3 separate regions of the Homo sapiens genome follow, and regions 1 and 3 are each linked to region 2. Evidence: fine-mapped expression QTL. A gene starts in region 2. Each other region holds a variant in brackets. All regions are shown on one strand. Distances are from middle to middle. Region 1 overlaps NBN (nibrin). Region 2 holds the start of OSGIN2 (oxidative stress induced growth inhibitor family member 2). Region 3 has its middle 17 kb from the start of CALB1.

The links. PIP is the estimated chance that this variant, and not a neighbour inherited with it, causes the effect. A credible set is the group of variants that fine-mapping cannot tell apart.
Region 1: its variant is the best candidate, but not a certain one, in a credible set for the expression of OSGIN2 in blood mononuclear cells (TOPMed, PIP 0.86).
Region 3: its variant is the best candidate, but not a certain one, in a credible set for the expression of OSGIN2 in subcutaneous fat (FUSION, PIP 0.71).

What each region holds. Positions count from the first base shown.
Region 1 is chr8:89,937,964-89,941,963 of GRCh38, forward strand. All of the region lies in intron 14 of NBN (nibrin), which reads right to left. Among named protein-coding and RNA genes, the nearest start is that of OSGIN2, 37 kb to the left of the region's middle. The variant A/G (reference allele first, on the strand shown) is at 1,694.
Region 2 is chr8:89,900,034-89,904,385 of GRCh38, forward strand. It overlaps OSGIN2 (oxidative stress induced growth inhibitor family member 2), which reads left to right and starts at 2,537. Exons shown (of 6, transcript NM_001126111.3): 1 at 2,537-2,804. The coding sequence starts at 2,761. LOC124901974 (a long non-coding RNA gene) reads right to left here and starts at 2,373. Exons shown (of 2, transcript XR_007061001.1): 1 at 1,986-2,373. It also overlaps the pseudogene RNU6-925P. RefSeq lists enhancers at 416-1,181, 1,182-1,947 and silencers at 2,241-2,539, 2,289-2,628, 2,659-3,108, 4,102-4,161.
Region 3 is chr8:90,097,503-90,101,854 of GRCh38, forward strand. No RefSeq gene overlaps it. Among named protein-coding and RNA genes, the nearest start is that of CALB1, 17 kb to the left of the region's middle. RefSeq lists enhancers at 240-912, 913-1,584. The variant AAC/A (reference allele first, on the strand shown) is at 2,329.

The DNA of each region.
Region 1 (4,000 bases), 38 kb after region 2:
ATCTTTAAAGGTACATTCATTCAATACTTATTTAGTGCCTACTATGTTTCAAGGAACATGTTCTTCCCCTCTTTAGCAAAGGCTTCCTGATCCCCTTCTTCTAAAAATAATGCCTGCTGTGAAGAACTCTCCCAAAACTTCAGCTACAGAATTCCCAGGATGCTTATCAATTTCTACCTTCTGTTATAATTATTTATATTTGTACCCTATCCTCTCTAAAAGACCAGAAGTTCCTTAAATACAGATAGAGTAAGTCCTGACTTAATGTTTTTGATATTTCTTGGAAACTGCAACTGTAAGTGAGATGACATACAGCAGTTCCTTGAATCATGTTGTTTTGTTGTAATAATGAGAAAAAATATTGGTTATGTAATTTTGCTTAAAGTTGCAGTTTCCAAAAACCTACTGACAATGTTAAGGACTTACTGTGTTTATTTTTACTGTTACTAATTTACATTTGAATGCTTCCAGATACTATCTTAAACTCTCTCTCTCTCTCTATATGTGTGTGTGTGTATATATATATATGAAATCTCACTTAATCTTCATGTAACTTCATTACTATTATACTATTATCTCAGTTTTAACCAATGAGGTAACAGAGACTTAGGTTAGGTAAACCTGCAGAAGATAGGGGAACTCAGATGGAATAGCTGGGATTTGACCAGGTCTACCTTATTAAGAGCACCAGCTCTTAACGAGGCTGCCTCAGGGCTTCTGAATCTCTAGAGCAAGCCTACAAGAGTGACTTGCAGGGATTCGATCTTACAGACTGATTTTTCTATCATATAGTGAAACAAAATTACATCTTATCTTTTCATATTTTCTAATAGGGATAGCAAAACATAAATGGGAAGACATCATTTTAATAAAACAGCTGTCAAAATAACTACTGGCAACATTTTTCTAAACATTCTTAGAGGTTGCCTGGGGAATAAAGTTGTAGCATAGTAAGGAAAAACCACTGAGGAGAAAGCAGTTTTATTTCATATATTTCAGTAAAAACATATAAAATAGTATTAAGAAACAGAAATGCCTCATATTACTGGCATTTTTCAGAGGTCTGAGATAACTACTACTCACAGTCTTTCAAATTCAAATCAGGTTGGATACAGTTCAAATAATTTTTATGTTTGATGTACACAATGAAAATATCCTAAATTCAAGGGAACTTCAGGAACTGACGCAGTGATTATGAAAATCAAGACTGGTGGGTCTGCAGCAGAGGTAGAGAAAGAAGGGATGAAAAAGAAAAATAGGGAGGGAATATAGAAAAAGAATAGCTGCAGCAAACAGGGAAATGAGATGGCAGTACAGAACATTTACATAAATAAGCAGTAGCCATGCAGCAAAAGCAAGTCAAGTCTGTTATAGAGTAAGTCCTACCAATAGCAACTAAAATGATTCTAGCAAAAAGAGAAGTGATTTGGTGAAATCATCTAGAACACAGTCCATCTAATTCCTAATGAAATAAGCAAAAAAAAAATAGAAAAAAGTCAGCAGCTGTATGATGTATCATCATTCTCTCAACTTCTCCCATCTAAAATTAATCAAACAAAACTCGACAGTGTTAATTAATCAAGGAGAAGAGTTTAAGCCATGCCATACGCTTAAAAAGTGCAGCTGTAAAAAGAACCAAATGATTCTGATGCAGCTGATTCCTAATACTGTCTCAATCCATTAAAAGTGCTAC[A/G]CAACTGGTCAAACCTGAGGATTCTTACTAATGCCCCAAATTTGGGGAAAAGGTAACCTGAACAGGGAAAACAACTGCCAGTGGGCTGCTGGGAAGGGACTAATGGTGTAGAAGGTAAAGAAGCAGGGCTGACACTGACCAAACACATAGGCTCCAAGGATCCCTAACAAATTAGGTAAACAACCTAATAATGCTAGGTTATTCTCTTTTATATAGGGCACACTCCCTGGTATAGGACATTTAATTAAAATCCCAGGAGACAGCTAGCCCAAGCTGCACACAGCTCCAGCTGAGCCTTTCCTCTCCCAGATTCAATGTCTTCAGACAACAGAAACTAGATGGGATATGCCATGTGCCACTGACTGTTTCAGCATAATGCCATACTGACAGTGAGGCATGAGGGAATTCTGTTCTTTAATTTTTATTTTATTTATTATTATTATTTTTGAGATGTGGCCTTGCTCTGTCACCAAGGCTGAAGTGCAGGGGCTCAATCATGGCTCACTGCAACCTTAACCTCCCAGGCTCAAGCAATCTTCCCACCTCAGCCTCCTGAGTAGCTGGGACTATGGGCACATGCACTACCATGACCCGCTAATTTGTTGTGTTTTTTTGTTTGTTTGTTTAATTTTCATTTATTTATTTTTTTGTAGAGACAGGGTCTCAAGATGTTGTGCAGGCTACTCTTAACTCCCGGGTTCAAGTGATCCTCCTGCTCCCAAAGTGCTGGGGTTATAGTCATGAGCCACACCATTGTGCCTGGCTGAATTCTGTTCTTATGGGCAAGACAAGAATGTTAGAAGTAATTTTGATTATACTGAATTTCTGTCTCACAAACTGGCTTCTGAATGTAATCCCTGCATGAGATGGCATATGATCCTTTATGTAGCAAACAGAATATCTGGAAAAGACATTTCCCTTTACTCAAGTGAAGGCAAAAAACAGAAAAGCTACTCCATCTACTAGAGGAAAAAAAAAAAAAGGGATATTGGAACAGAACATGCAAAAAACAGATAAAGAACCTAATCTGCAGGAAATAATAATCCACGAATAAAAAGTAAAATAGAAACATGAAAGCAATGAAATAATGACAAAAAATCAGATAATAGAACAATGAAATGAAAAAAGAACAAATGCTAAGTAAAAGAACCATAATAACAGCCTTTCAGAATTAAATTAGAAATAGCTAACACTTCCCACTGTTATAAATGATTTATATGTAGTATCTGATTTAATCCTCATATGTCTGTGAAATAAAGGTACTATTATTATTCTCATTCTGCACAGATGGAAGCAGAGACATTAAGTAATTTGCCTAAGGTCACATACTTGGTGAGAAACATTATAGACACACCTGAAATGTAAAATTTTGATACAGTGAAAGAGCCTAAGAAAACCACAGTGAATGCAGAAAAAATAGATGTGGACGACAAAGGTAATCCAATGAAAGGATAGTTATGTCTTAAATGTCTTATAGAGAGCCCAGCAAATATAAAATATTTAAAATATATAATAGAAAAAAGTTCCTTGAGAAAGAGAATTACACCTGCAAATCAAAACAGCATACTATATGTCAGGAAAAACTAATGGAGAATGATCAACACTGAGATGTATTCTGAGTGTTACTGGCTTTCGAGCTTAAGAAAGATGACTGGTCATGCATGCAAGTCACCTAAAAAGGGAAAAACAGGACTGGCATAAGGTAAGGGAGGCTAGGTGGGAGGAAGTACTAATAATGTCCTCACTTTTCACTGTAGCGAGCCAACAAATAATTGTATGTGAAGTTAATATGAAGTTTAAAACTACCCATTCCGACTTACAGTGATTTTTATAGTTTTCCTCCTTAATATTAGACAGATCTCACAAAATAAAATATCTTGGAGGGAAGAAACATTTATAGAAATTCAGCAATGCCTTCAGTTTAACTTCCTCCTATCAATGTCTCTCTCTTCCTTCCCAGTCTGTCCCTGCCTCTCACTACTCCTCAATGAAGAGATGTCTGGAATATTGTTCACTTAACTGTTTAAATAGGTAATTTCTGGGCTTTAGGTTTTCACATCTTCATTCTTTGTGTACTGCCATAATTCTGTGGAATGCACATGTTACAAAATAAGCCAATTATTCTTTCAAAAAAGAAAAGGAGAAAGGATGTGATTTCCATTCTTTCATTTTTTAAAAATAAGTATCCTGAGTGACCTTAACAACTCTACTTTCATAAGTGACTTTCCTAAATAACCCTTATTTTAAAATAACTGAGAAAAAAGCACTTTTAAAAGTGAATTACACTATACCCACTATAAAGCAAAA
Region 2 (4,352 bases):
CACTCCCATGTTTATTGCAGCACTGTTCACAACAGCCAAGATTTGGAAACAACCTAAGTGTCCATCAATAGACAAATAAAGAAAATGTGGTTTATGTACACAACGTAGTAGCATTCAGCCATAAAAATGAATGAGATCCTGTTATTTTCAACAAAATGGATGCAACTGATGTCACTACTTTAAGTGAAATAGGCCAGGTACAGAATGACAAACTCTGCATGTTCTCACTTATTTGTGGGAGCTAAAAATTAAAACAACGGAACTAACAGAGAATAGAATGATGGTTACAAGGCTGGGCAGGGTAGTGGGGAATTAAGGGGCAGAGTGGGGATGGTTAATAGGTACAAAAGTATAGACAGAATTAGATCTAGTATTTGACAGCACGAGAGTGACTAGTCAACGATAATTCATTGAACATTTTAAAATAACTAAGTATAATTAGATTGTTTGTAGCACAAAGAAAGGATAAATATTTGAGGTGATGGATACTCCATGTACCCTGATGTGATTATTACTTATTGTATGCCTGTATCAAAATCTCATGTACCCCATAAATATATATACCATGTACTCACAAAAAATAAAAATTAAAAATTAAAAGAATTATCTGGATTGGACTGGCATAGCTTTCAGGAATTTATATGTTTATTTTTAATTTTTTTGGTTACATAGTAGGTGTATATATTTAAAAATACGGAACGCTTCACGAATTTGCGTGTTATCCTTGGGAAGGGGCCATGCTAATCTTTATATTATTCTAATTTTAGTATATGTGCTGCAGAATTAAGCACTGCTTTTAGGAATGTAGGTACTTTATTTATTTATTTTTGAGACGGAGTCTCGCTCTGTCGCCCAGGCTGGAGTGCAGTGGCGCGATCTTAGCTCACTGCAAGCTCCGCCTCCCGGGTTCACGCCATTCACCATGGTCTCGATCTCCTGACCTCGTGATCTGCCCGTCTCGGCCTCCCAAAGTGCTGGGATAACAAGCGTGAGCCACCGCGCCCGGCCAGGTACTTTATTATTATTTTTTGATACGGAGTCTCACTCTTTGGCCCAGGCTGAGTGCAGTGGCGCGATCTCAGCTCACTGCAACCTCCGCCTCCCGGTTTCAAGCGATTCTCCTGCATCAGGCTCTTGAGTAGCTGGGATTACAGGCGCGTGCCACCACGCCCGGGGCTAGGTTTTGTATTTTTAGTAGAAACGGGTTTCACCATGTTGGTCAGGCTGGTCTGGAACTTCTGACCTCAGGTGATCCGTCCGCCTCGGCCTTCCAAAAGGAATTTAGGTACTTTAAAATGCTGTTATGTATGTTAACGGAAAAGTAACTACATGCTTCATTTTCAGAACCAACATTCAAATGAAATGAACGTGTCAAATCGACAAAAGCTCAAAAAAGAGAAAAACATATAATACTTAAAAGTGGTTAATATACTCTTAGATTGCATAACTCTGGGGCAGTCTGAGTCCTATGATTTTCTTTTAAGACCCCAAGACTCTAAAATACCTGCTCATCACAAGTTTGTTCAGTGACAACATTCAGTAAAACTTAACATTTGTTTTACAAAATTATGTTGAAAGATATAAACATAAACGTATATTTGAAGCACAAAAATAATTACGGCTTTTTTTGGAAGCGGAGTTAGACATTTCCGTAGAAAAGTAGATGCAATCAATCTCTCCTGATTTTTGTCCTCCCCACCTTTAATTTTTGACAAACCGAATAACGACACTCACTATTGAGTACTTTTCTAACTCCCTATTGCATCACAAACGCCCGCAGGGGCTTAAAAAGCAGCAGGGGTTCCTGCCCTTCCCCACACTGGCCGGTGTGGTCTGGGGCGGGCCTGATGAGCACCTGGATTTTCACCCGGCGTGCTGGTAATTCCTACACTTGTGGGTGTTTGAGAGACATGAAGAGGGGAGGATGACCTCTTCCCGGAAGCGGGACTTCCATAAAAGAAGCGTGGTGGGCGGGTCCCGGGCACCTGTGGTTTGGTGAGTCCTCCAGGTAACTGTGATGCGGGGGTCAGCGGGAGAGGCACCCGGAAGCTCCCGGCGTCTGCACCCCGGCAGCGCGAGGAAATGCCCAAAGGTGGGTTCTCAGGCGTGGGAAGCTCGACCCTTCCCGGGGTCCTCGGCGAAGTGGCCGAGGCCGCGCCTTACGCAGGGAACTCCGCCGGGCCATCTGGGTGGCCCGAGTTCGCAGCAGCTTCTCTTCCGCTCGTCCCTCGGCCCTCTCGACGCGCACCCACCGGCCTCACCAAGTCGCACGCAGAGGGGCGGCGGGGCGCTGACCGAGGTCTAGGTCTCGATTGCCGCCGGTCGAGCCGCGCAGTTTGCCTGCAGACCTCGGTCCCCTGCCCGCGCAGCCTCGGCTCCATCAGGCCCGGCCCCTCGCCCGGGCCGTGGCTCCACCAATCGCAGACTTCGCCCGCCGCAGCCGCACCTGCGAGGAGGGGCCCGCGCGCCGCTGCAGCCGCCGTCGCAGCGTCCCCGCCCCGCTCCGCCCCTATCGCGGCGCCCCGAGATCACCCGCCTCCGGCGCCTGGCTCCCTGCAGGCGAGGAGCGGAAGCCGCTATCTGGAGGCGGACTCCGGCGCCACAGAGCCGGGGCAGCCGCGGCAACGGCGAGGCGCGAGGCAGGGGCGCCCGGCAGACCCCGCGACCCCGAGCCAGCGGGCGCCCCGAGCGGGCAGCCTCGCCGGGGGAGGCGGAGGCGGCCACGGCGGCCGCGCTCGGGCGCCCCTCGCGCAGCGCTCCATGCCCGTGTGGTGCTGCCGCTGCTCCCTGGCCGGTCATTTCAGGTGACTTCCTCGCCGGGGATGGGAGGGGAGCAGGCGGGGATGCCGCGCTCTCGAGCTTTTTGGCCTGGCCCGGGCCGGGACCGGGGTGGAGGGCGAGCGCCTGGACCGCAGCGTCCTCCCGCCTCGGCCGTCCTGCCTGGCGTGGGGGTGGGGTGGGGTGCGGTGTGGTGGGGTCCTTGCTCCGGGGAGCCCTGCGCTGTTCCCTTTTCTCGCTCTGGACCGCGCGGGTCACGGGACTGCGGGATCGGCTAGGCCGGACTGAGTCGGTTACGGCGAGCTGAGACTTCCCAGTAGTGCAAAGTTTTAGTGAAGGGGGTTCTACGAAGTGCCTGCCTCCCTAAAAAAAAATTATTTCTTAAAAAGTCTTCTAAATAATGTAATGAGTGGAAGGAAGGTAGGGAACTACATTTCAGTGTCATCTAATCACAAATAGATTCTGCCTTGTTAAGATGTTAGCCATGGTAAGACGTGTGTGTTGTAGAAATTTAAAGAATGAGGCGGTTTTACAATCACCTTATGGGGAAAGGTTTTAGGGGTGATAAAATATAATACATTTCTAAAATAAAAGTATGTTTTCTAGATCTAGCACATTTGGTCAACACCTCAGTCATTGGTGGAAAGACCAGACACTAGAAACTGATTTTAACCCTGGGGTGAAGAATGGTTAAGCATAGGGAATACTTTAGTACCTTGCTTTACATATACTGATGTTCCAGAATAATTCTATGTAAGACTTCTTCCCTGGTAAAATATGAAATTTTGATCAAGCCTTCCTAAATAGTGGGTTTCATACAATTTAGGTAACCCATGAACTTGGATGGAAAGAAAGGTATATCATTTCACTAAATTTTAAAAACTAATATTCAGTTAAAATATAAGCAACAAATCACAGTAGTATCTGTGACTGTCATCAGTAGAGATCATAAAATATGTTTATATCACATTGCAGTTAATATAGAAATACTGTTTATACTTATTCAAAATTATAGTAACACATCACTGAATTTATTGAATGCAACAGAGAAGCACATATATATATCGCGTTTACTTTTTATGACTGTTTTAATAGAATTAGTTTTCTTGTAAATCCTGTGTATATTTAAGAACAGTATTCAGAGAAGAGGTTAAGAAGCGTCATCCTATAGTAAAAGAGATGTAAGGCATAGAGAAAGTTTGGAACTTCTTTTGTAACAGCGATAATCCAAGCTTGTCTAACCTCTCAGTGAGTTTAGAATGAGTCTCTAGGTTGTGGATATTAAGGAAAAATTGTTTCATATAATAAACTGCTTGATTTTAACTTTTAGGCAAATTTGTTGACTACTGAGACAGCGGTTTGAAGGTATCAGATTCACTATGGAAACTTTTAGGAAATAGGTTCCCCTAGTGAAACTTGTTAAACTAAATAAAGCCCATGAGAATCTAACATGCCTTTCAGAAAATATTGTGTGAAAGCTATTTGACACCTTTTGATGCACAGTGTAGGATTCATATTCTTTTGACTAATACTGGGTGTTGAATACCATTTGCTTCCTGCCGTGCACAGAAATT
Region 3 (4,352 bases), 200 kb after region 2:
GAAGAATGAGGTGTGCAGACAAGTGAAGAGTGAAGAAGAAGAGTTTTACTTAGTGTCAGAACAACTCTGAGGAGTAGGTAGCTCCTCTCTGTGGACAGGTCGTCCCGTCGAGTGTTCAGCTCTCAGCAGAGAGGAGGTTCTGGAGAGGGTGGCTCCTCTCCGCAGGCATCTCTGCAGGTCTCTGAAGCTCTCAGCCGAGAGGGTAGCTCCTCTCTGCCAGCAAGTCGTCCCTGCAGCTCTTGGCGGAGAGGGCACTCCTCTCTCAGCTGAGGAGTCCCTGGAGAGGTTGTCTCTGCAGCTCTCAGCAGAGAGGAGGCCCTGGAGAGGATGGCTCCTCTCCACAGGTGTCTCTAGAGGTCTCTGAAGCTCTCAGTAGAGTGGGTAGATCCTCTCTGCCGGCAGGTAATTTCTGCAGCTCTTGTCCCAGAGGGTACTCCTCTCTCATCAGAGAGGAGGTCCTGGAGAGGTGGCTCCTCTCCGCGGGAGTCTCTCCGGGTCTGTGAAGCTCTCAGTGCAGAGGGTAGCTCCTCTCTGCCTGCAGGTCGTCTCTGCAGCTCTCGGCGGAGAGGGTGCTCTTCTCTGCAGTTAGTCGTCCCATTGTCTCCAGCTATCAGCAGAGAGGGTACGTCTCATTGAAGCTGGTCACCCAGTCCCATGAACTCTCTCTACTCTCTGGGTCCTCTGGCCATACTCTGCACTGCTCTGGCTGAGCCCAGGGCTCTTATAGACCTCAGAGGGGAGGAAGTGCATGGGGATTGGCCCATGGGTGGCCATGGGCGGGCCCAGAGAGGCACCATGAGTTCCCACTCTGGTGACGGACTGGCCACCTGGCCCTCAGCCTTCAGGCCCTCCCTGTCCTGAAGGTGGAGACTTACTGGGGACCTACCCCCTTCCACCCAGGACTCTTTCTGCCTCCCACTGCCATTCAAATTCAAGGCCCCGGGTCACTGCCCCAACCCCACTTCAAGATCAGAACCAGCATCAGAAGCAGAGAGAGGCCAGGCAGTGGGAGCAGACACCCCCGAACCTGCGACGGGGGAGGGTCCTTCCTGCAGCCCTCTAGGGTGCAGGGTGCAGAGACGCCCAGGTCCTGCGCCTAGGAGGGTGGCCGCAGCCGCACCTGGGAAGGCAGATCCAGCCTGCTCCAGGCCTTCCCCAAGAGCACAAGGAGGCTCCCATCGAGGGCTGCAGTTTGGGCAGCTGTAGTCCCATCCAGGAGGAAGGGGCTTCTGCTTGCTCCATAGAGCAGGAGGCCTGGGTCTGCAGCTGGGTTTGGGCAGCTGCAGTGGCACGGGAAGAGCTGCAGCTCCAACTCAGAAGGGGTGGGGCTGCCACCGGCTCCATGGTGCGTGCAGCCTGAGCCATGCCTCCTTACTGCAGCCAGCGTGATGGCCACTGCCATCACATTTGGTGTTCTCGTTAAGTGTGATATTAGCTGTAGTTTTTTTTCATAGCTGTCCTTGATCAGTTTAGGTAGGTTCTTTTCCCAGTTTAAGAGTTTTGAAATTATCAATTGGTGTCAGATTTTGTTAAACACTTTCTGTGTATCACTTGAAGTGACACACAGATACACAGATCATATATGTGGTTTGTTTTGCCTTTTTTTTCTTTTCTTCTTTCTAACTGCATATGATGAGCAATTTTACTACTTTCAAGATTTTTTCTTTGTCTTTATCTTTCATCAGTTTAACTATGACACATCTGGGTGTAGAAACTTTATCCTGCTTAAAGTTCATTGAGCTTCTTGAATATGTAGATTAATATTTTTCATTAAACTTTGGAATTTTTGGTCATTATTAATTTTTTTTTCTATTTTTTTCTCTTTTTGCTCTCCACCTTGGACTCTAATTACACATGCTTAGTATGGTTGATGTTGTTCCAAAGGCCTTTGAAGTTCTGTTGACTTTTCTTCAATCTTTTTTCTCTGCTATTCAGACTGAATTATAACTACAGTTCTATTGTCAAGTCATTGATTCTCCCTTCTGTCATCTCAAATTTGCTGTTGAGCCTCTTGAGTGAATTTTTCATTTTAGTTATTGTAATTTTCAACCCCAAATTTCTATTTCATCCTTTTCTTTTTAAAAATAATTTCTATCTCTCTGAGTTATTTTTATAAGCATATTTATTTTATATATGGTAAATAATATGTTTTGATATGTATACACAGGCATACATCAGAGATGTGAGTTCAGTTCCAGACTACAGCAATAAAGCCAATCTCACAATAAAGCAAGTCACACAAAATTTTTTTTCTAGCACATATAAAATTATATTTCCAATATACTGTAGTCTCTTGTATGCAATAGCACTATGTCAAAAAAAAAAAAA[AAC/A]CAGTGTGCCTGCCTTAATTTAAAAATATTTTATTGCTAAAAATGCCAATGATCACCTGAGCCTTCAGTGAGTCATCACCTTTTTGCCAGTGGAGGGGTTTTGCCTTGATGTTGATGGCTCCTGACTGATCAGGGTGGTGGTTGCTGAAGTTTAGGATGGCTGTGGCAATTTCTTAAAATAAGACAACAATTAAGTTTGCCATATTTATTGACCGTTTCTTTCATAAAAGATTTCTCTATAGCACGAGATGCTATCTGATAGCATCTTATGCACAGTAGAACTTCTATCAAAATTGGAGGCAATCCTCTGACACCCTGTCACTGCTTTATCAACTAAGTTGATGTAATCTTCTAAATTCTTTGTTGTCATTTCAACAGTGTTCACAGCATCGCTACCAGGAGTAGACTGATCTCAAGAAACTACTTTCTTTGCTCACCCATAAGAAGCAACTCCACATCTATTATAGTTTAATCATGAGATTGTAGCAATTCAGTCACATTTTTTTTTTTTTTTTTTCTGAGACAAGATCTTACTCTGTCACCCAGACTGGAGTGCAGTTACATGAACACAGCTCACTGCAGCCTCAGCCTCCTGGGCTCAAACAATCCTTCTGCCTCAGCCTCCTGAGCAGCTGGCACCATAGGCATGTGCCATTATGCATGCCTCATTTTTTGATTTTTGTAGAGATAGGGTCTCACTATGTTGCTCAAGATGGTCTTGAACTCTTGCCCTCAAGCAGTCCTCTTGCCTAGGCCTCCCAAAGTGCTGGGATTACAGGTGTGAGCCACTGCATCTGGCCAGGCTCCATTTCTAATTCTAGTTCTCTCGTTATTGTCATTATGTCTGCAGTTACTTCCTGCACTAGTCTTGAATCAAAGTCATCCACAGAGGTTGGAATCAACTTCTTTCAAATCCCTGTTAATGTGGATATTTTGACCTTCTACCATGAATCACAAATGTTTTTAATGGCATTTAGAATGGTGAATTCTTTCCAGAAAGTTTCAGTTTACTTTGTCCAGATTCATCAGAGGAATTATTATCTTTGGTAGCTATAGCATCATGAAATGTATTTCTTAAATAATAAGACTTGAAATTAGAAATTACTCCTTCATCCATGGGCTACAGAATTGTTGTGTTAGCAGACATGAAAACAAAATTAATCTCCATGTACATCTCCGTTAGAGCTCTTGAGAGCCCAGATGCATTGCCAATGAGCAGGAATTTTGAAAGGAATCATTTTTTTTTTTCAGAGCAGTAGGTCTCAACAGTGGGCTTAAAATATCCAGTAAACCATGCTGTAAACAGATGTGCTGTCATCCGGCTTTGTTTTCCATTTATTGAGCATAGGCAGAGTAGACTTAGGGCAATTCTTAAGGGCTCTAGAATTTTTGAAATCATAAAAGATGTAGACTTCAATTTAGAGCCACCAGATGCATTAGCCCTAAACAAGAGATTCAGACTGTTCTTTAAAGATTTGAAGCCAGTCATTGACTTCTCTCTAGCTATGAAAGTCCTAGATGGAATTTTCTCCCAATACTAGGCCATTTTGTCTACATTAAAAAAATCTGTTGTTGGCTGGGTACGGTGGCTTACGCCTATAATCCCAGCACTTTGGGAGGCTGAGGTGGGCGGATTGCCTGAGGTCAGGAGTTCGTGACCAGTCTGGCCAACATGGTGAACCCCATCTCTACTAAAAATACAAAAAAGTTAGCCAGGTTTGGTGGTGTACACCTGTAATCCCAGCTACTTGGGAGGCTGAGGCAGGGGAATTGCTTGAACCAGGGAGGTGGAGGTTGCAGTGAGCCAAGATCGTGCCACTGCACTACAGCCTGGGCGACAGAGCAAGACTCTGTCTCAAAAAAAAAAAAAAATTCTGTGTTTAGTGTATGCTTAGTGTAGCCACCTTTATCAATTATCTTAGTCAGATCTTTTGGATAACATTCTACAGCTTCTATATCAGCACTTCCTTCTTCACCTTATACTTTTATGTTATGATGATAGCTTCTTTCCTTAAACCTTAT